Regions from separate parts of the Homo sapiens genome. Here all the other regions are linked to region 3. The links come from fine-mapping of genetic effects on gene expression. A gene starts in region 3. Each other region holds a variant in brackets. All regions are shown on one strand. Distances are between the middles of the regions. Region 1 has its middle 27 kb from the start of LINC01656. Region 2 has its middle 12 kb from the start of LINC01656. Region 3 holds the start of RTL6 (retrotransposon Gag like 6).

Region 1 (10,288 bases), 28 kb after region 3:
AGACAAATCAAAATGGAATCCTAAAAAAGTGTTCAAATGCTCCACAGGGATGCAGAGAAAAAAACAGAGAAACAAAATTAGAGGAGACACACAGGAAAAAAATGACAAACTTAACCTCTGAAATATCAATAATTACATTAAATGTAAATAGTCTTAATACACTAATGAAAAGACAGGTTGGTGGAGTAAATCTTAAAAATGACCCAACTAAATGCTATCTGGAAGCAACTGACTTCAAGTATAACTAGAAGAAAGTTTAAAGTAGAAAGATAGAAATATGAAGATGAAATAAAAACATTTTCAGACAGACTAAAACTAAGAAAATTCATCAATAGTAGGTAGACCTATGTAAAGAAAATACTAGAAAGTGTTCTGTTGGCATGAGGAAAATGACCCCAACAAAGGTCAGACTTGCAGCAAAAAAGAGGACTACAATGCAAATATGTGGGTAAATATAGGCAAAAATTATCACAATGAGATGCTACTTCACACCTGCCAGAATGGCTATCATCAAAAGGATAGACAATAACAAATGTTGGTAAGTCTCTTAGTCCATTTTTGCTCCTGTAACAGAATACCACAGACTGGGTAATTTGTAAAGAACAGAAATTTATTTCTCACAGTTCTGGAGGCTAGAAAGTCCAAGATCCAGGTGCCGGCAGGATTGATATCTGGTGAGGGCTACCGTCGGTTTCCAAAATGGCATCTTGTTGCAGCATCCTCCAGAGGAGAGGAACCCTGTGGCCTCACATGGCAGAAGAGACAGAAGGCAAGAGAGGGTGCTAATCCCAATCATGAGCATAGAACCCTTCTGTCTTAATCACCTCCCAAAGGCTGCACCTTTTAATTTACTGTTGCACTGGGCGTGAGTTTTGGAGAGGACACCATCATTCAAACCATAACATTCTGTCCTAGCCTCCAAAATTCATGTTATTTGCACAAACAAAATACATGTATTCCATCCCAACAGCCTCAAAGATTCTTAGCTCATTCTAGCATCAACTTTAATGTCTAAGTCCAAAGTCTCATGTAAATATCATCTAACTCAGATACAGATGGGACTCAAGGTACCATTCATCCGTAGGCAAATTCCTCTACAGCTGTGAGACTGAAATCAAACAAGTGATGTGCTTCCAAGATACAATGGTGGGAGAAGTATAGGATAGGTACTGCCATTCCAAAAGAGAGAAATAGGCAAGAAGAAAAGGGTAACAAGTTTCAAGTAAATCCAAAACCCAACAGGAAAACAACATTAAACCTTAGAGCTTGAGCTGGGTGCAGTGGTGTGTGCCTGCAGTCTCAGCTACTTGGAGAGGTTAAGGTGGGAGGAATGCTTGAATCTAGGAATCCAAGGCCACCCTGGGCAACACAGTGAGACCCTGTCTCTAAAAAAAAAAAAAAAATCACTTAAAGTTTTGAGAATAATCTTCTTTGACTCCATGTCCTGCCTTCTAGACACTTAGGTGGGAGTTGGTCCTTTAACGTTTCCAGGGATCCCTTCCCTAATGGCTTTGCTGGGTGGTCCACACAGCAGCTCTCATGGGTTGGAGTTTGGTGACTGCCCCTCTCCCAGGCTGGGATCATACTCCAATGGCTCCACAGTTCTGAGGTCTCGAGAACAGCCCCACTCCCGTGGCCCCACTGGACATTCCCCTGGTGCCCCTTTCTTCTGGCCTAGTAGGGGCTCTCCGTGGTGGCCCTGACTTCACTAGGCATTGCCCTAGTGGGGACTCTGCAGTGGTCCTGCCCCTGCAGCATTTCTCTGCCTGGGCCCCGAGGCTCTCTGAGATATCCTTTGAAATCTAGGTTGAGGTAGCCATGGATCCACAGCTCATACACTCTCTGTGCATGAGCTCTGCCTGCAAAGTTAGCACCAAGTGGATACTGCCAAGGCTTATTGCTTATGCCTTCTAGAGTGGCAGCCTGAGCCACATCTGGGTCCACTTGGGCTATGGCTGGGGTGGCCAAGGAGCACTGCACAAAAATGTAGGGAGCATTTTTGAGACTTGAGGCAGCAGTGGGCAGCGAGCTCTGACGTCCCGTGAGTATCCTGAAACCCTCCCTTTGAACTCTGCTACCCTCAAGAATGTGGCCCTCTGGGCCTGTGAGACTTGTAGCAGATCTCTGAAATCTTGAGGACGGAAGATCTCTGAAATGCCATCAATTGACTCTGAAATGGGCCATTTTTCCATTGCTTTGATGGATAGTATCTGCCTCCCTTCTATCCATGCTAATCTCTTTATCCAAGTGTAGCTTAGCCATACCCTTAATTTTCTCCCCTAAACATGCGGTTTCATCCTTCACATGGCCAGGCTGAGATTTTCCACATCTTTATGTTCTGCTTCCCTTTTGATAATGAATCCTGTCTTTAACTCGTTTCTCTTTTCTTGTATTTTATAAGCAGTTAAGAGAAGCCACGCAGCCATGCTTAGAGTTTTTCTTTGCCAAATATCCTAGTTCATCACTTTTGAATTCTGCTTTCACAGAGCAGCAGGGCACAGATAAAATTCAGACAACTTTTCTGCCACTTTGTAACAAAGATGGCCTTTCCTCCAGTTTCCAATAAGAAATTCCTCATTTCTGTCCAAGACCTTATCAGAATGGCCTTTCCTGTTCATGTTTCTACCAACATTCTGTGCTTGACCTACTCAGATAATCTCTACAGCTCTTTTCTGGGAAGACCCAGCCCTCACCAGAATTTCCCTTAATGAAATACAGGGTTTTTCCAGCACTCACTTCAAAACTGTTTCAGCCTCTATCCATTGCCCAGTTCTAAAGCCACATTCACATTTTCAGGTATGTATATATATATACATATATAGCAATACTCTACTCCTGGTACCCATTTCTGTCTTAGTCTGTTTGTGCTAGTACAACAGAATACCATAGACTGGGTAATTTATAAAGACCAGAAATTTATTTCTCACAGTTCTGGAGGCCAGAAGGTCCAAGATCAAGGTGTCAGCAGGATTGGTGTCTGGTGAGGGCTGCTCTCTGCTTCCAAAATGGCGTCTTGTTGTAGCATCCTTTAGTGGGGAGGAATACTGTGGCCTCCCACGGCAGAAGAGACAGAAGGCAAGAGAGCCCTCCCTCCAGCCTTGAGCCCTTTTACAAAGGTACCACTTCCACTCACCCCTCAAAGGCCACACCTCTTAACACTGCTGTATCATCGGGGATTTGGTTTCAACACGAATTTTGGAGGGACCCCATCATTAAAACTACAGCAATGAGGATGTAAAGAAATTAGAACCCTCGTACATTGCTGCTGGGAATGTGAAGTGACGCTGCCACTTTGAAAAACAGTCTGGTGGATCTGCAAATGGTTAAACATGGACTTAGTGTATGACCCGGTAATTCCACTTCTGGGTATATACCCAAGAGAATTGAAAGCATATGTCCACCTAAAAACTTCTACACAGATGTTTATAGCAGCATTATTCATAAAAGACAACAAATGGAAAAAACATAAACATCCATCAATAGTGAATAAACAAAAGGGGTTATATTTCTGCAGTGCAACATTATTCACCAATAAAAAGGAATGAAGTGCCGAAATATGCTATAATATGGGCGCTCTTGAAAACATTCTGCACAGTGAAGCCAGACACAAAAGACTGTGTGTTTTATTACCCCACTTATATGAAATGTTAAATTAGGCCCTTTACAGACACAGAAAGTGAATTGGTGTTTGCTAGGGGCAAGGAGGAGGGTGAGGAGAAGTTGGGAGGTGGGTCATGGGGAGTGGCTGCTAATGGGTACAAGGTGTCTTTTGGGGATGATAAAAATGCTCTAAATTTAACTATGGTAATGGTTGCAGAACTTTGCAAATAACTTAAAAACATTGAATTGTACACTTTAAACAGCGGAACTATATGGTATGCAAATTATATTTCGATAAAGTTGTTTAAAAAACCGAAATGAGAACAAACTGTATATACATTCTTATGGAGCTTAAAATATATGGAGTATATTATATTAAAATATATGGAACATATAGAAACACAAGAGCGTATAACTTGGAAAGGGGGTAATGGAATTAGACAGATCGTAGATCCTTGCATTTCCTGGGGAAGTGGAAAAGTAGCAATTAATATTTCATGCTAACAAGAAAAGGAAGGGTATTGAAATTTCTAGGTAAGCCGCAATAGAATTGTCAAACTAAGACAGGACAAAAATGGAATAATAAAATATATAATCAATCCCAAAGGGCAAGAACAGAGTGAAAAATAACATAGAAGAGGTTAGATAGATATACAAAGTAGGATTGAAAAAGGGAAATTTATCAGCAATTAGACTGAAACTACATGGGCAGTTTCTCCAGTTGAAAGACAAAGCTTGTCAGGATGGGTTTTCAAAACTCTACATGCTGTTTTCAGGAGATACATGTAAAACTTAAGAATGCGGAAAAGTGAAAAGTAAAAGGATGGAAAAACACATACCCTGCAAACACTAACCAGAACAAAGTCAGTCTAGCTTTACGTCTGGTAGGCAAAATAGCACGAAAGGAAAAGTCATTGGATAGCATAAGCCCTTTATAATGATAAAGGTTATGTTCATCAGAAAAATATAGCAATTGTATATTTGTATGTACCCAATAACAAAGCCTCAAGATAGCTAAAGAAAAATGACAGAACCACAAGGAGCAGCAGACAAATTCACAGTCTTAGTGCAAGGTCTCCGTAATTGGTATAATAAGCTGACACAAAATCAGTATGCATACGGAAGATTTGAAATACACCACCAACAGACTTGGCCTAATTGGCATATAGAGAAATTTGCATCCAACTGCAGAATGTACATTATTTTCAAGCACACACGAAAGATTATTTTAAAATTGACCTCATTTTTGGCCATAAAACAATCTTAATACACTTTAAAGGACTGAAATCATACATAAAAATCTGACACAAGATAGCAACTATGAATTAAGAAATACTCATCTAAGTAATTCACAGGTCAAGAAAAATCATCATGCAAATTAGAAAATGTTTTGAATGAAATGAAAATAAAAGCAAGGCACATCAAAACATATGGGAGGCAGCTAAGCAGCACTTAGAAAGTTACAGCCATAAATATTTACTTTAGAAAATAATCAAGGCTGGGAATCAATGGGCTAAGCAATCATCTTAAGGAGTTAAAAAAAATAATAATCAAACCAGGGCTAGGAACAGTGGCTTATGCCTGTATTCCCAGCACTTTGGGATCCCGAGGTGGGAGGATAGCTTGAGTTCAGGAATTTGAGACCAACCTGGGCAACACAGTGAGACCCCGTCTCTCCAAAATAATAATAAAAATAATAATTAGCTGGGCATGGTGGTGCACACCTGTACTCCCATCCGCTTAGGAGGATGAAGTGGGAGGATCACTTGAGCCTGGGAGATTGAGGCTGCTGTGAGCCATGGTCACGCTGTTGCACTCCAGCCCAGACAACATGATGCCTCAAAAATAAAACCAGGCCTGGTGCTGTGGCTCACACCTGTAATCCCAGCAGTTTGGGAGGCCGAGGTGGGCAGATGACGAGGTCAAGAGATCGAGACCATCCTGGCCAACATGGTGGAATCCCGTCTCTACTAAAAATACAAAAATTAGCTGGGCATGGTGGCACCTACCTGTAGTCCCAGCTACTCAGGAGGCTGAGGCAGGAGAATCGCTTGAACC[C/A]GGGAGGAGGAGGTTGCAGTGAGCTGAGATTGTGCCACTGCACTCCAGCCTGGTGACAGAGTGAGACTCCATCTCAAAAATAAAAAAATAAAAAATAATAATACAACCATAAAACCAGAAAAATAGGCCAGGCGTGGTGGCTCACACCTGTAATCCCAGCACTTTGGGAGGCTGAGGCAGGCAGATGACAAGGTCAGGAGATTGAGACCATCCTGGCCAACATTGTGAAACCCCGACTCTACTAAAATACAAAAAATTAGCCAGGCATGGTGGCACACGCCTGTAGTCCCAGCTACTTGGGAGGCTGAGGCAGGGAAATTGCTTGAACCCGGGAGGCAGAGGTTGCAGTGAGCGGAGATCGCACCGTTGCACTCCGGCCTGGCTACAGAGCAAGACTCCGTCTCAAAAACAAACAAACAAACAAACAAACACCAAATAGAAAGGGGAAAATAATAAAGATGAGCTTAGAAATTAATGAAATAGAAAAAAGTAAGAGAAAATTAATGAAATCAGCAATTAATTCTTTGAAAACACTTAAGAGACAAGGAGTCACTTGTTTGAGTCTCTTTCCCTAGAGACTCTCAGCACAAATGATGATCTCATGCATGTATCTGTGATAGCCAGATAGAGTCAAGTGCTTAGGACAAGTATTCCAGGCCAGAGGAAGGTGGAGGGAGGTTTAACACTGGAAGAGAAGTCTGTGATGGAAGCAGAGCCTGGAGGGTTTATAATGGGTTCTGCAACCATCACCATAGTTAATTGGCATTTATAATACCAATTATAAATAATTGGTATTAATTCTTTCTTAAATGTTTGGAAGTGAAGCCATCTGGACCAAGGCTCGTCTTTGTGGGATTTTTTTTTAAATTACCAATTTAATCTCTTTATTTATTTGCTCAGATTTTCTATTTTTCCTTGAGTCAGTTTTGGTAGTTTGTGTCTTTCTAAGAAATTATCCATTTCATCTAAGTCATCTAATTTATTGGCATATGATTGTTCATAGTATTTAAATGGCATCTTTGAAGATAAGAGAAGTGGCTACGCACAAGCTAAGGAGTATAGGTGGCCTCTGGAAGCTGTGAAAAGCAAAGAAATGGGTGCATTTCTAGAGCCTCTGGAGGGAGCATGGCCCCGCTGACACCCTGATTCAGCCCAGTGTAACCCATTTTGGTCTTCTGGCCTCCAGATTGTAAAATAATAAATATGTGTTGTTTTAAGCCACCAAGTTGGTGATAAATGGTTGTAGCAGCTATAGGAAACTAAATAGAGGCTATCAGGAAAAACTGTAGCAATTTAATTGAAACTTTACATAAAATGGATAAACTTCTAGAAAAACACATGCTCCAAAATTGGCACAAGAAAAAGAAAATCTGGATAATCTTATAACCATTGACTTTTAACTAAAAACCTTCCCACAAAGAAAACTCCAAGTCCAGATGGCTTCACCAGAGAATCCTGCCCTGCAAATAACACTTCTAATACACAACCTCTTCTAGAGAAAGAAAAAAAGGGAAGATTACCTGATCCATTTTAGGAGGCCAATTTAATTTGATATGAAAAAGAGAAGAGGGTAGACAACACAAGAAAGAAAAATTACAGGCAACCTCACGCAAAACACAGATGCAAAAATTCTAAACAAAACATTAGAAAAGTGACCCACCTACAAGGTAGATTTAACATTGTAAACTCAAATGTTACTTGCCACATTAACAGTTGAAGGAGAAAAAGTAAATGTTCATTTCGATAGATGCAGAAAAAACATTTGACAAAGCCCAAACTCCATTTACGAAAAAAGAAACTCTTAGAAAACTAGAAATATAGGCTGAGCACAGTGGTTCACGCCTGTAATCCCAGCACTTTGGGAGGCCGAGACTTTGGGAGGCTGAGGCAAGTGGGTGACCTGAAGTCAGGAGTTAGAGACCAGCCTGGCCAACAGGCAAAACTCCGTCTGTATTAAAAATACAAAAATTAGCTGGGCTTGGGGGCGCGTGCTTATATTCCCAGCTAGTCAGGAGGCTGAGGCACGAGAATCGCTTGAACTGGAGAGGCAGAGGTTGCAGGGAGCCACGATCATGCCACTGCCCTCCAGTCTGGGTGACAGAGTGAGACCCTGTCTCAAAATGATAAAAAAATAAAGAAAAAGAAAAAAAAAGAAAAAATTTAATCTGATAAATGGTAGCTACAAAAACTATAGAAGACATGTATTTATTGGTAAAATGCTGAAAACCTTCCTTTTAAAATTGGCAGCTAGATAAAGATACCTGCTCCCCCACTTCTCTTCAGCATTGGACTGAAAATCAAGCCTTACTGTAAGGCAATACAAAGAAATGAGGTCATAAGGATTGGAAATGAGGAAACAGATTCATCATTATTTACAGAGAATTTGCTCATGCATGTAGCAAGTCTAGAGATTCTACAGGTACATTATTGGAATTCATTAGAGAGTCTAGTAAGTCAATATACAAAAGTGAGTTGTATTTTTGTATACTAGAAACAAACAGCAAATGGAAATTTAAAAGATGCCATTTAAATACTATGAACAATCATATGCCAGTAAATTCGATGACTTAGATGAAATGGATAATTTCTTAGAAAGACACAAACTACCAAAACTGACTCAAGGAGAAATAGAAAATCTGAACAGATAAATAAAGAGATTAAATTAGTAACTTTTTTTTTTTTTTTTAAAAGAAAACAACTTTCCACAAAGAAGAGCATTGGTCCAAATTGCTTCACTGCCAAACATTTAAGAAAGAATTAATATCAATTATTTATGAGTTATTCCAGAAAAATCAAAGAAGAGGGAAAACTTTCACAACTCATTCTATGAGGCTACTATTTTCCTGATGCCAAAACCAGACAAAGACATTACAAAACTACAGACTAATATCTTTTATGAATATAGATACAAAAAGTCTGCAATAAAATACTAGCAAATAGAATCCAACAAGGATTGTCCACCATGACCATTTGGAATTTATCCCTATAGGCAAGGTTGATTTAACACCCAGAAACAATTAGTATAATACACCATATCAGTACAGCAGTAAACCACATGACCATCTCAATAGATGCAGAAAAAGCATTTGACAGGCCTGGCGTGGTGGTTCACGTGTGTAATCGCAGCAATTTGGGAGGCCGAGGCGGGCGGATCATGAGGTCAGGAGATCGAGATCATCCTGGGTAACACGGTGAAACCCCATCTCTACCAAAAATACAAAAAATTAGCCGGGCGTGGTGGCGGGCGCCTGTAGTCCAGCTACTCGGGAGGCTGAGGCAGGAGAATGGCGTGAACCTGGGAGGCGGAGGTTGCAGTGAGCCGAGATCGTGCCACTGCACTCCAGCCTGGGTGACAGAGAGAGACTCCGTCTCAAAAAAAAAAAAAAAGCTTTTGACAAAATTCAACACTCTTTCATGATAAAAATACTCAGACTAGGATTAGAGTTCACCCTCACTGCTTCTGTTCAACATTGTACTGGGAGTTCTAGCCAGGACAGTTAGGCAATAAAAGAGGAATCTGCATTGGAAAGGAAAAGGTAAAATTATTTTTATTTGCAGATTACATAACCTTTTGTGCAGAAAATCCTAAGCAATTCACACACACGAAAAGTAGAACTAAGAAATGAGTTTAGAAAGTTTCAGAACACAAGATCAATATGCAAAAATATATTATATTTTTATACAATAGCAATGAGCAATCTGAAATGAAATTAAGAAAATTTACTTACAATAGCACTAAAAGGAACAAAATACTTACAGATACACTTAACAAAGAAGTAAAAAATATATATTCTGAAAGCTATAAAACATTGTTGAAAGAAATTAAAGAAAATCTAAATAAATGGAAACATATCCCATGTTCATGGATCAGAGTAATTAATATTGTTAATATAATTAATTTATATAATCACAATAATTTTTATTATTGTTTATATTTGCAATATTTATTATTAATAAATTAATAATTAATTTATATTAATAATTAATAATTAATTTAATTTATTATTTATATTTATATCTATATTTTTATATAATAATTTATATTGTTTTATACTCCCAAAATGATCTATAAATTCATTGTAATCACTGCCAAAATCCAGGCTTGCTTCTTTGCACAAATTGACAATCTGACCCAATAATTTATATAGACACTAAGGGATCCAGGATATGTAAAACACTCTTGGAAATAAAGAGCAGAGTTAGAGGATTCACACTTCCTTATTTCAAAATTTACTATAAAGCTACAGTACTCAAAGCAGTGTGGTATTGACATAAGAATAGACATATATATCAATGAAATAGAATTGAGAATCCAGAAATGAATCTTCACATTTATAGTCAATTGATTTTTGACAAAGATGTTAAGACCATTAAATGGGGAAAATAGTCTTTTCAACAAATGGTGCTAAGACACCTGACTATCTACATGCAAGGGAGTGAAGCTGGACCACTATTTCATGCCATATAAAAAATTAACTCAAAATGGGTCAGACCTAAGAGCTAAAACTATAAGTCTCTTAGAAGGAAATCTGGGGGTAAATCTTTGGTTTCTTAAATATTCAGGTAGAAGGCTGGACTCAACTCCAGAAGTGGGGCTTAGACTCTGGACCAGATTGAAGACTAGCTGAAC
Region 2 (10,288 bases), 43 kb after region 3:
GCGAATGGATGGGTGGACGGCTGGATGGATAGATGGATGAATTACTGGGTGCATTCACTTGTTCTTTCCTCTGCCTTACCTGTCTTCATAGCCCTTAGCACCATCTGCATCATGAACATTTACTTATTTTTTTACATATTATCCACTTTACCAAACTAGAATGTGAATTTCATGAAGAGAGAAACTTGTTGAAGACTACTTTCTCAAAGCCGAAAATTGTTTCAGACACATAGCAACTGCTCAATAATAGCCAATTAACAAAGAAATGAGGCAGAGGCCTGGAAGGAGGGTCCAGGTCTTCTTTCACCACGCCCAGGCCACCTTACATGCTCTAATGTGGTGTCTTCTTCCATTGAAATAAAGGGACACAAAAAGGGATGCCTAGACTCAGGGCCAGTCCAGGTCCAAATGGGGAACAAGATTTGCCCTTGAGCGACCGGAATCTTGGGCAAGTGTGTTACATGCTGTATTTCTGACTCAGAGCATGAGGGAGAATAGAGGAACAAGAGGTGGGATGCAGCTTGTATGAAAGGAAACTTCTGAATGGGCACAGGGAAGGCTTCCTAAAGGAGGAGGTACCTGAATTGGGCTTGGAAGGATATTTAGGATGAAGATGGCAGATGCAGGCATGGAGGGACAGAGGTGAGTGGAGTTGGGAAAGAAGGCAGGGGCCAGTTTGGCCTTAGGGAAGGGTGCAGTGGATGGAGGGATGGGCAGGAAACAGTTGGGGAAAGTAGATTGGGAGCAAGCCTACTTGTAATATCTGAGAAATGACCTAGAAGAGGTATCTAGGGGCACTGAAAAAATAGGCCAACACAGGTGGTGCTCTTGGTAGGGCCTTGTATCATAGGGCTTGCAGATCCTAGCAGCAGGTGTGTGCCTGGGGCTGCCCACAGGGTGTAGCTCAGAGGCGGACATGTGACCCAAACTGGCCAATCAGGGTCTTCTCTGAGACACTCTCTCTCTCTCACTTCCTGGAGCAAGACAGTCTCTGAGCCTGTCAAGGGTGAGACGCCGTTGAACCAACTTCCCAGTCAGTGAAGATGAGAAGAAAAGCCAGGAAAGCCCACATGCCACATGGGGCACCTGGAAGACTGGCTTCGTGGGTGCAGAGGTAATGCCAGCTTCTGAGTTGTGGGCAAAAGCCAGAATGAGAGTGAGGTGCCTCTTGGGCTCGTGTGAAGGGAAATTTCTACAAGGTCACTGGGGAAGACTTCATAGAGGAGGTGGTGTCTGAACTGGGCCTGGAAGGATATGTAGGATGAAGATGGGCAGATGCAGGCATGGGGTCCACCAGCCCTCATCCCTTGGGAATAGAGCACCTGGCTGACGGTCCCTGGAGCTCATGCAGAAGCTGGAGCCTTTGGGGGCTTGGTAGGAAGACGTGAGCATGTGGGGCACACTGAACATGGAGAAGAGAAAATGCAGCAGCTTTGCTCAGAGAGGCTCTTTCCACCAGGGCCCGCGGGCCGATCGCCCAGGGCTTGGCAGAGCTGTGGCAGCACTCCTACGCCAGCTCAGGTGCAGGAGCAGGGCTGGGGGTGGAACCAGGAGAGTGAGGTCAAGGCTAGAGGGACGGTGCCTGGCCGTCCTCACACCTCAGCTGCCAGAGGTGGCCTGGGGACCCACTCCAAAGCCCCTGGGTGTAGCCCGCCTGGAGCAGAGCCCTGCAGCTGCCCTGGGCCCACATGGCTGGTTGCTAAGAGACCAGAGCCTGGAGGCCGACAGCCAAATTTCAGGCTGTGACTGAGTAAGGACCCTGGCTTTTGCCTGTGGCTCATGGAGTCTTTAGAAACTGAATTCTCAGACAGCCACCTGAGGTTGAGGGGAGCAGGGCCTAGAGAAATCCCACAGCTGGGAGATAGGGTAGCTCGAGCTCAGCCCTCCCATCCTGCCTTGGAGCCAGTCCAGATGGGCCCAGAGGAGGTGGCACAGGGAGATGCTCCCAGTGGGCACACTAGCTCCCCAGGGCTCCCTGAGCTGCAGGAGGGATGTCTCCGATGTCACCCGGACCGTGCTTATCCTCCTCCCACCATGCTTAACCTCCCTGTGTGCCAACACATGCACACACGTGCATGCACACACCCCACGCAGACACCAGACATACACACAGCACACTCGTCACTCACACGCCACACACCCATGCACACACACACGCCACACCACATACTACACGTGGTTGCAGTCACACCAGATATAGATGCATGTTCCAAGATATCACTTTTTCTCTCCTCCAGGCTTCCTTCTGCCTTTTTCTAGAAAATCTCTAAGGTCCTGCATTAAATGTCAGATCACGGGAAAGGCTGTCCCTGAACTCGTTCAGCCGGGGGACTCTGTGATCCCTTACAGAGCACGGCCTATGGTGCAATTGTTGGTTGAGGGACTGAATGCACCTTACACTGTAAACTCCTTCGGGTCAGGAGCTGAAGCTTCTTTGTGGATTATAGCCAGTACGTAACTCAAGACAGGCTTTCACCAAATGCTTATTAAATTAAGAGGCCAGGCATGGTGGCTCACGCCTGTAATCCTAGCACTTTGAGAGGCTGAGATGGGAGGATCACCTGAGGTCAGGATTTCAAGACCAGCCTGGCCAACATGGTAAAACCCCGTCTCTACTAAAAATACAAAAACTAGCCAGGCGTGGTGGCGGGCGCCTGTAATCCCAGCTACTCAGGAGGCTGAGGCAGGAGAATCACTTGAACGCAGGAGGCAGGGGTTGCAGTGAGCCGAGATTGTGGCACTTCACTCCACCCTGGGCGACAGAGCGAGACTCTGTCTCAAAAAAAAAAAAAAAAAAAAAAAAAAAGGAATGAAGAGTTGAATGAATGAGTGACAAAAAAACAGAACCAAGATTTGTTAAGTGCTGGGCCAGAGCCCTTTCTTCTGTCTCTCTCTTTTGAAAGGGTAAGGATATTTTACTCATTCTGCTTACGTTTAATGCATTTTGTTATTTTAGCTCAAACATAATTGCCTTTTCAGCATTTTTCTTCAAAATGATGATTTAGGGTCATCCAAATCTCAGTGCACATAGTGATAATATTTCTATATGATTTCCATTCAAAGTGAAGAATTTAAAATTTGGGGATGCTTTCAATAAGATCTAGTGAACAAAAGGAGCTTTTGCCCAAGATGATATCTTTTAAAATGTGCTCTATAAAGTTGCTTGGGGTCTAGGAGAACTAGATGATGGGGCTTTTCTAGGAACATCTGCGGACAGGCTTCCAGGCCCTTCCCAGAGTCTCTGCCCATCCAGGCCTTCTCCCCGGGTCCCTGAGGCCTCCACCACCTCCCCTCCAGCTTGCATCCCCCTCTACAACTATCTGAAGGGTCCCGACCAACATCTGCACCTCCCCTACCAGGCTTTACTCCCAGCCTTCTTTTTGAACAGGAAGGCATCTCGAAACTCAGTGTCCCAGGAATAAACTGTTCGTATGTACCCTCTGAGCCTCTGGAAAGAGGCTCATCTGAATCTTCAGGAGCAGGTTGAACAGCATCAGGAAGCAACAGATGTTTCAGCCCTGTCTAGGGCTCCATCATTCTAGGTGCAGAACATCTAGGCCCTCTCCAGCCAGGGTTTTTTCCTGGACTGAGAGCTGATTATTTTATTTTATTTTATTATTTTATTTTTTTGAGGCAGAGTCTCACTCTGTTGCCCAGTCTGGAGTGCAATGGTGCGATCTCGGCTCACTGCAGCCTCTGCCTCCCTGGTTCAAGTGATACTCCTGCCTCAGCCTCCTGAGTAGCTGGGATTACAGGCACCTGCCACCACGCCTGGCTAATTTTTTTGTATTTTTAGTAGAGACGGGGTTTCACCATGTTGGTCAGGCTGGTCTCGAACTCCTGACTTCAGGTGATCTGCCCATCTTGGTCTCCCAAAGTGCTGGGATTACAGGCATGAGCCACTGTGCCTGGACTGCTTATTTCTAAACCTAAATTTAAGCTTTCATTCTCTCCCTCCATTTCACTCTCTGCCCTGAGTGTGGGTCATGGTCGTCTTAAGATTAAAAACCAATGATCGAGTGGATGAGTCAAAAATGCTGGACTGATGTCTTGATTTGACTTCCCACTCTGCCACCAGTGGTAAGTCAGGTTTCTCATCTGAGCCTCTGTTTGCTCACCCTGTAAAGTGGGAAAATCCTATGACCCTATTTTTGTAAAGATAAGTCAAGAAAATGAACTGCTATTAGTGGAGGGCTTCATGACCATGAGAACTACAGAACCTGAAGAAAAGCATCCAAATAGTCCGGGTATTCATGCACGGTAAACCCCTGGAGGCACGTTCCTCTGTGACCGTGCATGCGTGTGCACACATACGAAGGTGACTGGCTCTCCCGCGACTCACAGAGGTGACTCCGGCAGAAACACAACGCCAGCACAGCAGGTCCTGGGGTGTGATGGTACCTCCTCCTGGGTGTCAAGTGGAGACCAGAAGTGCAGAGGACCAACCTCCTAAAGGCAGAAGAAAATGGCAAGTGGCCAATCGTTATATGTTGAGGCTACCATTGCATGTTCTGGGTTTACCACCTCTGTTTACCAGCCCGGTAGCCCTGGGCCTATCACTTAATATTCTTGTGCCACAGTTTCTTATCTTCAAAATCTGGATAATAA[T/C]GGTAGCCACCTGCTCAGGATGTTTTCAGTTGCAAAGAACAGGAAACCACAAGAACCCAAATGGGCTTTTAAAGTAAATGTCAAGATGACATTCGTTTGCTAAACCGAAAGGCTCAGGTGAAGTGTGACTCAGCCGTTCAATGATGTAACAGAATATCTACTTTTGTTTTTTGCTTTCCCTCTACTTTCCTTTCTATGACATCAGATTCATCCTAAAGCTGGCTCCCTTTAGAGTCCAAAGAGGTCTGCCAGTGGCTCCCAGGCCTGCATGCCTCCTCATTAACATCCTTTGAGAGAGACAGAGTTTCGTTGTCTCATGCAAATATCACTACAGGTCCAAGTCATTCCTCAGAGGCTGGTATTACTCTTATCGGACCAATCTCAGTCCACCCCCAAATTGGAACCAATTACTAGGCCAGGGGATGGAATACACTGACTGGTTCAGATCAGATCACATGCTCCAGCCCTGGGACTGAGAGTAGAGCCAGTTTACTTGGACATCGAAACGGACATAGGGGACGGTGGGAAGGGAGAATAATGCTAGGAGGTGACGATTATTTATTATAGTCCTCACAGCCCTTGGCTACCCAAGGTTCATACAGATCCTTCCTCTTCCCATGAACATTCAAAGTTGCCTACATCCATATAAACACAAAGAAGACAACCAAAATCTCTTCCAGCCTTCCAGGGACTGCCTTCATCTCCCAGTTCAAGATCTCATTCCAGGAATATTTACAGTCCTTCCATCAAATCTGGATGGAAGTTATCATAGTACAGGGAAAGAATAATAAAGAGAAATTAGCTCACAGGACCGAGATGTCCAGCAGGAGAGAGGCTCCTGGTGTGGTTTGGTTTAGAGGTTCTCAATGGCATTGGTGCTCCAGATGTTCCTCTGTAATTCTCTCATATCAATCCTTCACCAAGCAGGGGCTTTTCCCCAGTGGGGTTTCCTTATAGCTGCCAACAGCTCCCAGAGTTACTTGGGCCCTTGTCCCTGTACCATGGTAGCAAGAAGGCAGTCAAGTTTTGAGTCATTGCAAATCGGCCAGCATAGACTTTTGAGGTTGCAAGCAACAGAAATGCAACCCTAGCTTAAAAGAAAAGGGAAGTTATTTGTGGTCCGTGTGCCTGGGATGGGGAGGACACTGGATGTCCCATAGCAAGGGTGACAGGGCTCAGGCCACTTCAGCAAGGTTCTAAGGGGCAGCCCCATTGCTGTCGTGGATGGGCAGCACCCTCTGCCTTCCCCTGCCCTCCCTGAGCTGTGGCTCCTCAGTAAGGAGTTGGACACACAAACCCTCAGGTCCCGGAATCGAGGGGACCCTGAAGGGCATCCACACACCCGAGTATCATGGTACAGCAACACACGTGCCCCCATGAAGGGACAGTCTAGACTCCCCAGCCTCCCATCCAAGGCCAGCAGAAGCGCTTTTGCCAACATGCAGCCGGCTCCGCATGTTACCTTCTCAACCCAATTAAAGGTGGCTCTAGGGAGCGAGCTCGGAGCTGATAAATGTGCAGAAAGCAAACTGGACGCAACCGGAAGGCAAAATCTTTCCCATCACATAGACCAACTGTGCTCTGGTGGTCACATGGGATCTTTCCCATCACATGGACCCAATTAGCCGAGCCTGTGCTGTGGTGGTCACATGGGGAGCTCACAGGCTGTGGGAATCCGGAGCTTGCAGTGCAGTGATGCTGTGGTCCCCAGGCATGGCCACTTGCCCTGACATAGCCTGAGTCTCCTTCACAGAGGTTTGGGTTGTGATTTTAATATAGAGGAATTGTCCTGGGCCCACATGATAATACCTGCCCTATTAAAATGCTTTTTGTCCCTGACACCTGGATGAGGCCCGAGGACAGGTGTGTGGGCAGGAAAAGTTCAGAAAGGAGCTGAGATTGAGCGAGGCCCTACTGCATACCAGGACTGCCATTCCCTGCCTCACCGCCATCGCCACAGTGCGGCCCTGTTATCCCCACATTCGTTTTCCTACGTGTGTGTTGGGGGAGGGATTTGGACTCTAAACGCCCCCTCCCCTAAATCTGGAATTGGAAATTGCAGACATGGGGTGGGAAGGTGGGGGCCCAATGAATAACTGATGGATGAATCAATGCCATTTTGAAACCTGCATTTCAACTTGACAATATATTTGCATCGATCAGGTTGATTTCAACGATGCTGCAGGAACAAACTGTCAAAGTCCCAGTGGCTTCAGTCAAACATGTGTTTCTGCCCAAGCAAAGTCCACGACAGGTGCAGGTGATTCCCCAGAGCCACAGTCTCCCAGGGATGGCTCAGCTGCCCCAGCTGACTGGAGCACCAACATCCCGGAGCAGCAAGTCGGGAGTGCGGGGCCACCCTGTCCGTTACAGTGGAAAGGGGTAGGCAGAGTGGTCCTTAATGCTTCTCCCTGGAGGTGACTCATCACTTCTGCAGACAGAGCAGGTCATAGGGTCACCCCTGATTTCAAAGGAGTGTGCACCTGGAGTGAGAGGAGAACCAGAAGTCCTGGTTCTTTCTTCCCCAGTGCTGGTGGGCTCTCTTCTCCAGCATCACCTAAAAACTTGTTTGTCTTGGGCTTGGCCTCTATCCTAGAACCTTCTGCTTCTCTGAGGCAGCCCCTCTGTCTGGTCTGTGTGGATGAGTGATTTCATAATATCTGATAAGCTCTTATCTGAGCCCTGATGAATTGGAATGGGGCAGACAAGGAAGAGTAGGTCCGGCTGTTCTGGGGCATAACAGTATCGGCCGTGGGCACTGCAGGGTGGACAGGGGCACCCTTCTCTCTGTGACTCCTTCAACCCAACCAGTGGTGGGAAGGACCATATATCCTGTGCCAGAGACTTGTTCCAGGTGCAAGTGTGCAGCAGGCACCAGGGAGCTGCCCCCGACCCACCCTCTCAACTCATTCACCTGGCAAATCGTGCCTTCTCAACCCAATTAAAGGCAGCTTCAGGGAGAGAGCTTGCAGCTGACAAATTTGTAGAAAGCAAACCGGACAACAACCGGAAAGCAAAATCTTTCCCATCACACAGACCCACATTGAGGCTCAGCCCCCAAGACCTCTCTTGACCCCCTGTACACCCCTACGGAGAGGCCTCTCCATTTTTCTTGATGAGGAAACAAAGCTCAGAGGAAAGTCACTTACAGAGCCAGAAGGAACAGAGCTAGGAGGCTGGAATAGGCCATTTGCATTGCTATAAAGGAATGTGAATACCCAAGACTGGGTGATTTCTGAAGAAAGGTTTATTTGGCTCACAGTCCTGTAGGCTGTACAAGCAGCATGGAGCCGGCATCTGCTTCTGGGGAGGCCTCAGGAAACTTACAATCATGGCGGAAGGCAAAGCAGGAGCCGGCGAATCACATGGAGAGAGTGAGCAATAGAGAGGGAGGTCCCACTCATTTAAACAACCAGACCTGTGTGAACTCAGAGCAAGAACTCACTCATTACTGCGAGGAAGGCACCAGGCCATTCACGAGAGGCCCACCCCTGTGCCCTACACACCTCCCACCAGGCCCCACCTCCAACACTGGGGATCACATTCCAACATGAGATTTGAAGGGGACACACATCAAAACCATATCAGAGGCCAACCCCCCAGCTTGACTCTGGGTCCTGAGTGCCCCCCACTCCCCTTGGCTTGGCTTCCTGCTTGGTGGAATGGAAGAATTGTAAGAGTTAAAGAAAGAGGAGGCCAGGCGTGGTGGCTCACGCCTGTAATCCCAGCACTTTGGGAGGCCAAGGCAGGTGGATCATGAGGTCAGGAGTTCAAGACCAGCCTGGCCAATATGGTGAAATGCCATCTTTACTAAAAATACAAAAAATTAGCTGGGTGTGGTGGCAGGTGCCTATAGTTCCAGCTATTCAGGAGGCTGAGGCAGAAGAATCACTTGAACCCGGGAGGTGGAGGTTGCAGTGAGCTGAGATCATGCCACTGCACTCTAGCATGGGCGACAGAGTGAGAAGCAAGCAAGCAAGAAAGAAAGAAGGAAAGAAAGAAGGAAAGAAGGAAAGAAGGAAGGAAGGAAAGAAGGAAGGAAGGAAGGAAGGGATGTCATTTTTGGTTTATGGTCATGCTGACCTTGGCCGTTAGGCTGATGCCCTTTGGATTTAGGCAGTTTTTGATCAAGGTGCTCGTCCAAGATGGCAATGCTCCTACTCTGTCAAGAATGACCTCCCCAGCCTGAATCTTGTGTGTGCCAGTTATGAGTCACCTATTGCTGTATAACAAATCACCCCTAAGCTTAAATCAATAGCATCCATGGTCTCGCTGTTTCTGGGGTCAGGCATCTGGGGGCTCAGAAGGGTTTCCTGGCTCAGGGTCTCCCACAGGTTGCCGGACTGTGGTGCACACAGAGCGCTTGGCAAACATGCCGTGAAGGCATGAACAAGCAGCCTGCAGGCTGGGGGCAGTAGGTGCAGAGGGTACAGGCGAGGCCTTTCAGGTGCACAGTGTCTGGCATAGATCAGACACAAAAATATATTGAATGAATGAATGAATGAACAATCAGGACAGATCTCCATTTTCATATTACTACTTCGTCCTGGGCAAGTTATTTCACCTCTTTGGGACTCAGTTTTCTCATCAGTAAAATGGGGATAATCATGCCTGTCTCATAAGAATCCATGTTTAAATAGCAAGTCTAGAAGAGTGTCCAGCATATAACAGGTACCCAGGATGTCTCTTTGGTTTAATCCACCCGAAGAGGTTGACTTCCTCCTTTTGATTCAGTGATTGGCTTGGCGGCGACTTTCCAGAATGGAATTCCTTATAAGGGGCCTTCCCAGATTGGAATTGCACGGCGATCTCGAAGCTTGCAGACATGGAGCGGTTGCCACCAGGGCATGGCTCCTGTCATCCCGCAGCCTGGGAAAGGCCACATAGAGGCTGTCTCTTTGGCCTGGTGGCAACTGTGACTCACCGTCACCATCCCGACCCCACCCTCAGAGCAGGTGGCCTTCCCTCCAGGACTTGGGAGGGGCCGCTGGACAGGATGGCATGGACAGTCCCAGCTAAGGCTGCTCAGACTGGACTCTGAGACCCTGCACACTGATCAACCTGTGGGTGAGCCTGGTGGATCCTGTCCCATCTAGTCTGTCGCTGGCTGAGCCGAGGCTTCACATGTGCCATGCCATGCCCTTCCTGAGCTTCAGTTTCCTGATGTGCGATGTGTGCAGGGGATGAAACAGACCAGGCAGTCCCCCTGGGACCTCATAGCTCTTGGTGACCATTCCACTCATGCTGGTGGCGGCCGGTTCCACGGTCCGGATGCTACCCCCAGTTTATGGGCTCTTTCCTGGTCTTTTTTGCTCTGTCTGCTGCCCTGGCTGGTGCATTCTGACTCTGTAGATGGCCGGGCTGAGGGTGACACCAGGCCCCAGTGTGCTGAGGCTATGAACACCCAGCCTTGCTTGCGTCCTGGGTTTGGGATGTAAAGGATTCCCAGTCTGCTAAAGCCACACCCTCCACAGCCACCCCAAAGCCGAGCCTTTGCTTTCAGGATTCCTGTAATCCTCATGCAGCATGGGCAGCCCTGGCACCTGTGCCCGCATGCTCAGGGAGGAGGGATGGCCCCACAGCACCGGGGGTTCTTCCAGATTCAACAATGGACGGACCCCACACAATGCCCTAAAAGGCAGGGTTATTGGTGGCAAGGACCTGACATTTCCTGGGCGCC
Region 3 (10,288 bases):
GTGCTTTTTTTTTGTCTGCACCCATTGGCATTTCGGGGTTGCCAGCTTCTTCAGCTCCAAGTCTGGGTTATATGATGCAAAAGAAAACTCGAGGAACTCACCACAGTGTTATTCCTTAGGTCCTGAGGTGCCTTCTCTCCACCTACTGCATCTTGTGGTTTTTTTTTTTCAAAGCTGTTTTTCGATACGTTTTCTGCAAAGAATAGGCATGAGTGCATCTACTCCATCTCACTGGAAATGGAAATCAACTACATTTTCTTTTAAAAGGTACTTTTTCACAGGTACCTGATCTTGGTACAATATGGCTTTTTCTCCACAATCTGTTCTTTTCACAAATATTATTCCTTCCTTGTTCTCACTGAGCATCCCAAATATACTTACTTTAAAGTCTGTTTTTTTCAGACTCTTCTATTATTTTAATTTCCTCTGGAGTTAATTCACCTTACAGTTATTGATTTTTCTTGACTATTATTCTTAGCATAAGATGTCTTCATGGGCTTCAGAATTTTGAATCTCAGACTCATTTTGTGTTGAAAGACTTTGTCTCTCTTTCTCTCTTGGTACTCCCTTCCCCCATCTAGCAGTTTGGGGTGGGTCCACTTGATGTCTGGTCTGTGGTAAAGAAATATATATATATACACACACATATATGCATATTATATATACACACACATACACATATACATACATATATACATATATGTGTATAATATATATGTGTATATATATTTTGTTGGTGGTTTGGAATCCTGACCCTCTTGGTCTACTTGTTAAACCAGGGGACAAGAGATTAAGATGACTATATCTGTGTTCTCCTTTGACCCAGGGCCACACTTTCACATAAACTGTCACACCCCACCCCCATGAAATGACTGAATCCAATTTTTCAGACTTTTTTTCTGACACAGGGGTGACTCCTCTCTCCTCCATCCCCTGGATTCAAATAGGAAGCCTGGCTGTGTTCCCAGCCTTGGGTCCCTATTATGTCTCAGGTCCAGAGCCCGGCAGGCCCACGTCAATACTCAGAAGTTTGTGTTTCTGGACCATTGTGAAGTTTATCTTGTTTATCGATTGGAGCCCACTTATATCCTTTCAATATTTTCTTTGCATATTTTATTGTTCTGTGTTCACAGCCCAGACAGGCACCTCAGGGCATGAATCATAGCTTCATCTGGATGAGAAGCCAAATATTCTTCTCCTGTTTTTACTTTTAAAAGTCCATTAATTTTTATTTTGCTCTATTTTATGGGCTGCCATCTAATTTCCCCTTGGAAGTAAAGTGAAATACAGATAAATTATTTATTTCTTTAAATGTTTTATCATTTCTGAAATTGGGGTGCATCTTATATTCAATGCACCTGGGAATTTAAGATTCATGGTGTCAACCACACTTAGAATTGCAGCAGACACTTCACTAATGTGCCCAGTATCCAGGGGCCTAGACAGACAGAGAGACAGAGAGACAGATGGAGTGACTCCCACGAGTGGATGGGATTCCTCTGTGTGTTTAGAAGAACCTGGAGGGGTAGAAGGCTGCAGGCTCATTTCTGCTTTTGAAGTCATTGACCTCAGTCAAGGTTAACACAGCTCCTGCCCCCATCTGATTTAGAAGGTCTCATGGAAGAAGTTTAAGGACACACAGTCTTCTTTATTTCCCTCTTGCTTCATGCTCTAGAAGTTTTCACCTGGTCACAAAGGGTGCACACTTTGGCACACTGGGGTACAAGTATCCTTTCCAAGTTCTGACACTGTAGTTGTGGGACCAGCCCAAACTGGGCCTACCCTGTTGGTAACAAAATGTCAAGCTGCCTTTTAGGTAGAACAGAGCCCAAAACTGCAAGTCATGTAGCCTGGGCATGTGCCGTAGAAAAAACTTTGACCTCCAACAACACCCAGAACCAATGATTCGTCCTCTTAGAACCAAGAAGACTGGGACATGACCAGAAGTTGAAAACCAGAACTCATTCACAAGCAAAGGGGTCCATCAGCCTGGAAGGTCTGGGGCTAAAATCTACTTTAATATACATTACCACATATGGTCAAATTTGAAGCCCTCCAATCAGACCCTGGCAAGCCAGCATTGATAAATACTTTCTCTTGCCACCTGATCCCTTAAAACTTGCCCCATACCTCAAATCAGGGAGACGGATTTGAGCCCACCTCCTCTCTCCTTGCTGGTCAGTTTTGCAATAAAGCTTTTCTTTTCTCAAAAGCTGGTGCCATATGTATCGGCTTCCGTGTGCATCAGGCAGCAAGACCACTTGCTCAGTAACAACATCCTTATGCCCTAATTCCCTTGAGTGAAAACTGCAGGTCTGAGTGAATCCAGCTCTGTCCCAGGCCTGCCTAAAGAGTGCAGATGGTTCCCAGCTTCAGCCTCCTTGAATACTGTGTCCTCAAAAGACTGGCATACTGGGTATTGTTAACTGAAGAATGACGAGGTTCATAAACCTGGAAAGGAGAGTTTTATTTATCATAAAAGGTTGCACCCTGCAGAGTGGCCATTTGAATAGGCTGGGAAGTGTAGCCTCTGGCCAGAAGCCATAAACAGGCACTTCAAGGGTTGGAAGAGTAAGACAGGAATTTATGTTGATCAGGGTGGCCAAATATACATATTCAATAAGCTACAGGAGGAGTTATAAATATTTATGAGAAGAGAAATATGCACATGTGCAACTGAGCTTCATCCCCCTTCATGGGTAGCACCTACAAAAAATGGCAGTGTTAGCGTGATCTGAAGGTGGAGTTTTCAGCCCTCTAATGTCAAAAGGTGTATCAGAGGACACAAAAGCTTTCACTGCACATCCTCCACAGGCTGGCCAGAACCACTCCAGGGTTGGTGGTCTCTTACTAGGAAAGAATGCTGGTCAGTTGTTGTGTGCCACAAAAAGGGAGGGGCAGTGTCAGATGGTTGGTTGGTATCAATGTTGAAGTCTTTCAAAGAGGCTTGTTTCTGTTTAACTCTTAAGGAAAAAAGCCTAATGGTGGTTATCGGTTATGGAGCGGGGGCAGATAATGAAGTGTGTCCAACCTCCCATCCCATCATGGCCAGGAACTCGGCTTCCCAGGTTTCTCTGGGGTCCCCTGGCCAAGAGGGGGTCTGTTCAGTTGGTTGGGGGGGGGGGGCTTAAATTTTTATTTTTATTTCTCAGTATCTTTTCTCTCCAGCCATGCCAGCTTGAAACTGACCATGCAGAAGGATCACCTAGGTCAAGCTGGGAATCCAGACCCGGAATCAAACAGTTCTTACCCTTTGGCCAGTGTATTAGTCTGTTTTCACGCTGCTGATAAAGACATACCTGAGACTGGGCAATTTACAAAAGAAAGAGGTTTATTGGACTTACAGTTCTGTGTGGTGGGGAGGCTCACAATGACGGCAGAAGGTGAAAGGCACGGAGGAGCAAGTCAGGTCTTACATGGATGGCGGCAGGCAAAGAGAGAACTTGTGCAGGGAAACTTCCCTTTTTTTTTTTTTTAATTTTTTTTTGAGATGGACTTTTGCTCTGTTGCCCAGGCTGGAGTACAGTGGTGCAATGTCTGCTCACTGCAAGCTCCGCCTCCTGGGTTCACGCCATTCTCCTGGCTCAGCCTCCCAAGTAGCTGGGACTACAGGCGCCCACCACCACGCCTGGCTAATTTTTTGTATTTTTAGTAGAGACGGGGTTTCACCATGTTAGCCAGGATGGTCTCGATCTCCTGACCTCGTGATCCACCCGCCTTGGCCTCCCAAAGTGCTGGGAGTACAGACGTGAGCCATTGTGCCCGGCCGGAAACTTCCCTTTTTAAAACCATCAGATCTCTTGAGACTCACTCACTATCACAAGAAGAGTGCAGAAAAGACCTGCCCACATAATTCGATCACCTTCCACCAGGTTCCTCCCACGATGTGGGAATTGTGGGAGTTACGACTCAAGATGAGATTTGGGTGGAGACACAGCCAAACCATATCAGCCAGGTATCTTCACTCCTTGGTATTTACTCTGGGGAACCCAGCAGAGAAAAGGGTGGGGATTTATATACAAGTGTAGTTTATAAAACTTTAGCATGGTAAACAAGATAAGGATCTATCAAAAAGGGCATGGCTAAATACTTTGCGGTACAGGAGTTCCATGGACCACAGGCAATAACTGAAAATCATGCTTCTGAACTATCTTTAATAGGAAAATGCTCAAAATTCAATGTGCTGTTATGGTTACAAAATATTCATAAGGTAAAAAATATTTTGTAGAACATATCATAGAAAAATGACTGGATGGAAGTACAGAAATATTACTATCTCTACGTTACATATATATGTATTACTATTTGCTATCTTTAGGTGGAGGGAGTCTGAGTAGTATAAAGTTTTTTTTACTTCTCTTACATCAAGATTTGTTACATTAAATTTATATTCAAATCACAATAAGGGCCTGATGCAGTGGCTCACGCCTGTAATCCCAGAACTTTGGGAGGCCAAGGCAGGCGGATGCCCTGAGGTCAGGAGTTGGAGACTGGCCAGGCCAACAAGGTGAAACCCCGTCTCTACTAAAAATACAAAAATTAGCCGGGCATGGTAGCACGCGCCTGTAATCCCAGTTACTTGGGTGGCTGAGGCAGAAGAATCGCTTGAACCCGGGAGGCGGAGGTTGCAGTGACTCAGGATCGCGCCACTGCACTCCAGCCTAGGCGACAGAGCGAGACTCCGTCTCAAAAAAAAAAAAAAATAAGAAGAACAGTAAATCATCAAAAAAATAAACCCAATGACAACCACAGAAAGAGCCTTGCAAGCCCTCTTGGGAGGAATGACTGGGAGAACACCAGGTACCCGCCCTGATGAAGACGCCGCAGCAACTACAGTCTTCCCCGATTGGCAGCAGCCCGAGTTGGGGGGTGGGGGGGGGTGGGACTTTGTGCATCACTTCCGGGGGCGGGGCAGCGGTCGTCTCCGCACGCGCGGGAGCGGTCGGTATCCATGGCAACCAGCGGGGCCAGCCTAAGGCCCGCCCGCCACCGCCACCGCGCCGGCCCCGCCCGCACAAAGGCCGCGCGGTGACCCGCCCTCTGCCGCGACCCCGGCCCCGCCCCTGCCCCGGCCCCGGCCTGGCCCGGTCCCTGCACCTGCCGGAGGCCGCCCGCCGCCATCGCCAGCGCCGTCGCTTGGCTGCGCTGACCGGGAAGCAGTTCTCGGCGGTCCGCGCGGTGATTCATCGGCCTGGCCGCGTCCCCCGCGCGGGCCATCTTGGTCACGGCCGGCGGCGGACAGAGCCGCGGAGGAACCGCGAGACCCCAGGTACGCGTGCCCCCGGCCCCCTGCCCGGCCGGGCCCCGCCACTGTGGTGGCCCCCAGGCCCGCGGCCGCCAAGGAGCAGCCCCCTTTGTTCTCCCCCGGGCGGGCGCGGGGCGGGCGCCGCGGGGCTTTGTGCAGCCTCGCCACCCACGCGCGGGCCCTCCACGCCGCCCCTCACCCTCCTGCCCGCTAGTCGCAACTGAAACCTTGAAAACATCTTTTCTTAATCCTCCAGGGCCCAGAGCAGGTCCAGCCACCCGTCTGGCTCCGTAGTCCGCGAAGTCTGCAGTAAAGGAGCCGCGTGGGACCGGGGCCGAAGTCCCTAGGGCCTGGCACCGCGTGCCCCTCTCTCGGGCCCTCGGCTTGGGGGTCTCGCAGCGCCCTGCCGTCGTGCACCCCACACTGCCCCCATTTCTACAGGGGCCCACCTGGTCACCACACCCTCTTGGTCCACCCGCGGATCTCAGCGTGTGGCTGACCTCTGGCCAGCATGGTGCAGCCGCAGACGTCCAAAGCTGAAAGCCCAGCCTTGGCAGCGTCTCCGAATGCCCAGATGGATGACGTTATTGACACCCTGACCTCCCTGCGCCTCACCAACTCGGCGCTGAGGCGGGAGGCTTCCACCCTGCGGGCGGAGAAGGCCAATCTCACCAACATGCTGGAGAGCGTGATGGCAGAGCTGACCTTGTTACGCACCAGGGCGCGGATCCCGGGGGCTCTGCAGATCACCCCGCCCATCTCCTCAATTACTTCAAACGGGACTCGACCCATGACCACACCTCCAACCTCTCTGCCCGAGCCCTTTTCCGGGGACCCAGGCCGGTTGGCGGGGTTCCTGATGCAGATGGACAGATTCATGATCTTCCAGGCCTCCCGCTTCCCGGGTGAGGCCGAGCGTGTGGCCTTCCTTGTGTCTCGACTGACTGGGGAGGCGGAGAAGTGGGCTATCCCCCACATGCAACCTGACAGCCCCTTGCGCAACAACTATCAGGGGTTCCTGGCAGAGTTGCGGAGAACCTACAAGTCTCCGCTCCGGCATGCGCGGCGCGCCCAAATCAGGAAGACTTCTGCCTCTAATAGGGCTGTGCGAGAGAGGCAGATGCTCTGCCGCCAGCTGGCCTCTGCGGGCACGGGGCCTTGCCCAGTGCATCCAGCTTCCAACGGGACTAGTCCAGCGCCAGCCCTGCCTGCCCGAGCACGGAATCTTTAAGAATCCGCCAGCACTTGGTAGCGTCTGCAGCCACCCAGGTAGCATACGCTCTTTGCTGTGTAGAAGAAATGCCCATACGACAGCTTTGCCCCTGTTTGAAGACCTCCCTTCTTGCCTCTCCAGACGTGTTCCCCGAGGAGATCTTCCTTCCGTCCTTCCTGGCGCCCTGGTTGCCCACCTTGCCGTGCTTCCTCTTACGTGCTAGCTTTGTACCTATCGCTCACTGCATGCTCGCCTCCCTCTTGCTGGCATCCCGGCCTGTTTCAATGACTACCGCTCTGCTACTTAGGCACAGGGACTCCGCCGCACGCTGACGGACCACGAGGGCTGACCCCTTCCAGCCTGACTTGGTTCATGGAGGCTCCTACTCTGCCCTCTCCAAGCTCCCCTGGCGGCTCCCCACCTGGTTGCCCAGTTCCTATTGATGAGCTCTGGACAGAAAGATGCCCGTTTGGCCAGGCTGGTGGCTTGATGGGTGTACCTGGAGAGGGGGTCTGGCTTCCTGCCCAAGATGCCTCCCAGCCCTGCCAGGGCCCGGTGCAGCGGGCAGGGCCTCATCTGTGCTGTAGTGGTCGAGTGGTTGCTGCAAGGAGCGTAGTTCTGCCATGTCTGGGGGCCAGGTTCCACTCTGCACATGAATATGCAGTCTGGGAGGCCCCACTGCTCTCACTGGGAAGGACCAATGTTGCACCTCTGTTAATGCCTGACTTCAGCTGCTGGTGTTCTGATGGAGCCAGAGGCTTGGGGAATCTGGAACTTGCCTGCTAAATAAGGTCGTGGTGGACTCTCAGCCATTGGGCAGGTCTATCAGGCTGCAGGTTCCTACACACCCACGCCTGAGGGTCATAGCAGGCTAAGGGTGGATACCAGCGACTCCCTTTGCTGCCCAGGATCTCCATGGGCAGTGCCACAGCGGCTGATGCTCAGTCACTCCTGCTTCTACCCCCTGTCACTGATGGCGAGCCTTGCCCAGCTTGAGACCTGTTCCCATCTCTATTCAGGTGCCATGTGGCCTTCACTGCAGCCCTGCAGCCACCCACGCACCATCTGTGGGTCTCCAAAGGCACCTTGTAGCATGTACTCCCCGTGCCTGGGCAATCAGATGGGCTGCCTTTGTCCAAGGGAAAACAGACTCCCTTCGGGAAACATCCTTAAGCACTTAAGGCCGGGGGGGGTGTCTGCCTCTGGCAACCCAGCCAGGGTCTTGGTGGCATTTGTAAAAGCAAAGAGCTGTGGACTGCCGTGGTCCTAGTGTGGTGACAATGCAGCACTGGCATGCATGTCCTCCTTCTGAAGGACCTCATCCTTCCTCACAGGGGGATGACCAAGAAATCATTTTGTGGCTGAGTTTGGCCACGCCCTTTGGACTGTGCTGTTCCGCCATATTTCAATGCCAAATGAACCACATTGACATGACCTGGACCATAGGGCTTCCTATCCTGGGCTCAGCTGCCCCTGTCTGAAGGGTCTTGGCTTGATTGCAGAAGGACAACCTCCGCACCCACCTAAAGACATGTATATGTCTTGGGATCCCAGAGATTGGGTCCTTGGGCCTGGCTTCTTAAGAGTTTTGATGATGCTGGGAAAAGTGACTGCGATTCTGAAGAACCGCTGCCTTGCAAGGTCAAGGACATTCAGTGGTTGCTGGGGTCCGCAGACTACTGCCACCCACTCACCATCAACTCTGTTAGCCCAATTGCCCTGCTGAACAACTGCCTGAATACAGGCTTTAGGTTCCCCTGGACTCCAGCCAAGGCTGTTCAGGTGGGACCATGGTGCTCTTTAAGCGTGATCGGAGGGAAGACACACAGCAGGGCCACCATTCCATGAATGGGAGGTGTACAGATCACTTTCTCTTTGTGCTCAGTTCTGTTCTGTCTCCAGCAGCTATATTGGTAAGACTAGTACCTGCCAGGGAGAGGTGCCCCCAAGTGAAGGGGTACAGTGGCACCTGGGAAAAGGCACCTGGAAGGTTTCCATGTGGCCCAGCCCAGCATGGAAGCAGGGTGGGAACTCTGCTGTGTCGCCAGCGCTCACTCTACTCGAGTGGCTTTTTGAAAGCCCTACCATGTCTGTGTCAGGCCTGTGCTGCTTCACATCCTACAGCTGCCTAGGAAAGGCCGGCCACGCTCCCTGTCCACACACTCCCTGTCCACACACTCCCTGTCCACACACTCCCTGTCCACAACTGCAGCCGGGCCCTCTGCCTATGGGCACCCAATCCAAGCAGCTGCTCCACCTTTGTTTGGCATGGTGATTTGTGTTTTTTCTCTTGGTGCTTATGTGTGTGGGCTTGGGACGAGTGCTGGTATGCACTTAGGACCTTCTTGATAGCTCCCTGCACTTTGGAACACGGAGCAGATGAGAGAGGGTCGGGGCTTGCCCTCCACCTTGGACTTGGAAGAAGCCCACATTGGAGAGGTGAGGACCCCATGGTGGCTCTAGTGGAAGATACGTTAGTCTCCAGCTAAGGAGGATGAGGCGCAGCCCCAGAGGGAGACCTCAGTGATAGGGGATCAGGCTAAGAAAGTGGGGGAAGGGAGATGCTTTGTACATATTTTGGGGTTATAATTTCTCTAAATTTTAGGAGAACGGGTATTGATTGATAAAAGGGACAGGCAGTAGTGTTCAACAGTGCATGTGAAGGAAAGTTCTGTTTTCCATGGTTTTGACATTCTTTGGACTGTATTGTGACTGCTGTCTGGTCCACATGGTACCCCTTTGGTAAGTAGGCTTCAGTGCATACCAGGGTATCACTGGAGATGGGAGTTAGTGAAGGGGTGACTCCCTGGCCTAGTATAGTGTGACCCTGGGACTAACTTAATGTCCTAAAGCATTTTGGTGACTTCTAGGGAATAGCAAAGACCTATTTCATTGTCCCCAGGTAAGTATGTGATGAGCAATGAGGAGGAGTGGAAAACAAAACCCAGAAAGTGCGGCAGGACCAGCCTGACGCACACGCTCCTGTTGTCATGGCAGACAGCCGCCTTGGGTGGGCACCACCCTGGCAGTTCCAGCCTGTAGGGGAGTGAAGGGACATGGCTGAGCTGGGCATGTGCTGAGGTTGACTTAGGGAACAAGCCCTGGGATTGGACAAAAGGGCCCATGCTGCAGCCACTGACTGGGGGCAGAGCTCTGGGTGGAAGAGGGAAGAGATCCTAATGGAGGCGCCTCCATCTGCAACCACAGTTGTAAGGCTCATGGCACCTCTGCTTGGAAAGCACTGGTTTAGGGACTTAGAGAGGTAGGCACAAGGTGGGTCTCCTGGGTAAGGGAAGCAAGAGCAGACTGTTGGGCCAACAGGAGAAGCTCCCCAGAGTAGGGGAGAAGGTTGGGGTGTAGGGCCTTCCACGTGGAACAGACAGCCCCTGTGTCTCTGTCTCTTGGGGACCTGAGTTTGGGTGGGGTGGCAGTTGGCACAGCGCAGATGCGGTAGAGATGGGAGGAAACCCAGCTCCTCACTTCCGTGTGCCTCATGCCTTTGCATACACAAGCACCAAACCTACTAGGTCTTCTCATTACCCATGTAAACCACATGTTAGATAAATTTTTGCAAGTAGAGGAAAGAAGGAAATAAAACATCACATTTTGGTGTCTCTCAGGCTTTCCCCCCCAACTATGGTTTCTTTGCTTTTTGTTTTAACATAGTTTTGTTGCTGTCTTCTGTAATGATACAGTTTTGTGCAGCTGTTTTCACTTAGCATATCGTGGGCATCTCCCCTTATGATTACTAAATATTTTATTTTGGAGTGGCTGTGTACTCTCCCATTGACTAGATGGACCATTGTGCCAGTTGCCAATCACTAATGCTG

What was found.
Region 1: its variant is fine-mapped to the expression of RTL6 in whole blood (TOPMed, PIP above 0.99).
Region 2: its variant is fine-mapped to the expression of RTL6 in whole blood (TOPMed, PIP above 0.99). The same link has a PIP of 0.9 or more in T cells and blood mononuclear cells.

What each region holds. Positions count from the first base shown.
Region 1 is chr22:44,465,133-44,475,420 of GRCh38, reverse strand. No RefSeq gene overlaps it. Among named protein-coding and RNA genes, the nearest start is that of LINC01656, 27 kb to the right of the region's middle. The variant C/A (reference allele first, on the strand shown) is at 5,659.
Region 2 is chr22:44,449,899-44,460,186 of GRCh38, reverse strand. No RefSeq gene overlaps it. Among named protein-coding and RNA genes, the nearest start is that of LINC01656, 12 kb to the right of the region's middle. RefSeq lists enhancers at 4,451-4,600, 10,141-10,288. The variant T/C (reference allele first, on the strand shown) is at 4,609.
Region 3 is chr22:44,493,025-44,503,312 of GRCh38, reverse strand. RTL6 (retrotransposon Gag like 6) reads left to right here and starts at 5,080. Exons shown (of 2, transcript NM_032287.3): 1 at 5,080-5,269; 2 at 5,502-10,288. The coding sequence starts at 5,757. The coding sequence ends at 6,476. RefSeq lists silencers at 4,870-4,929, 5,020-5,149 and enhancers at 6,409-7,186, 7,187-7,964.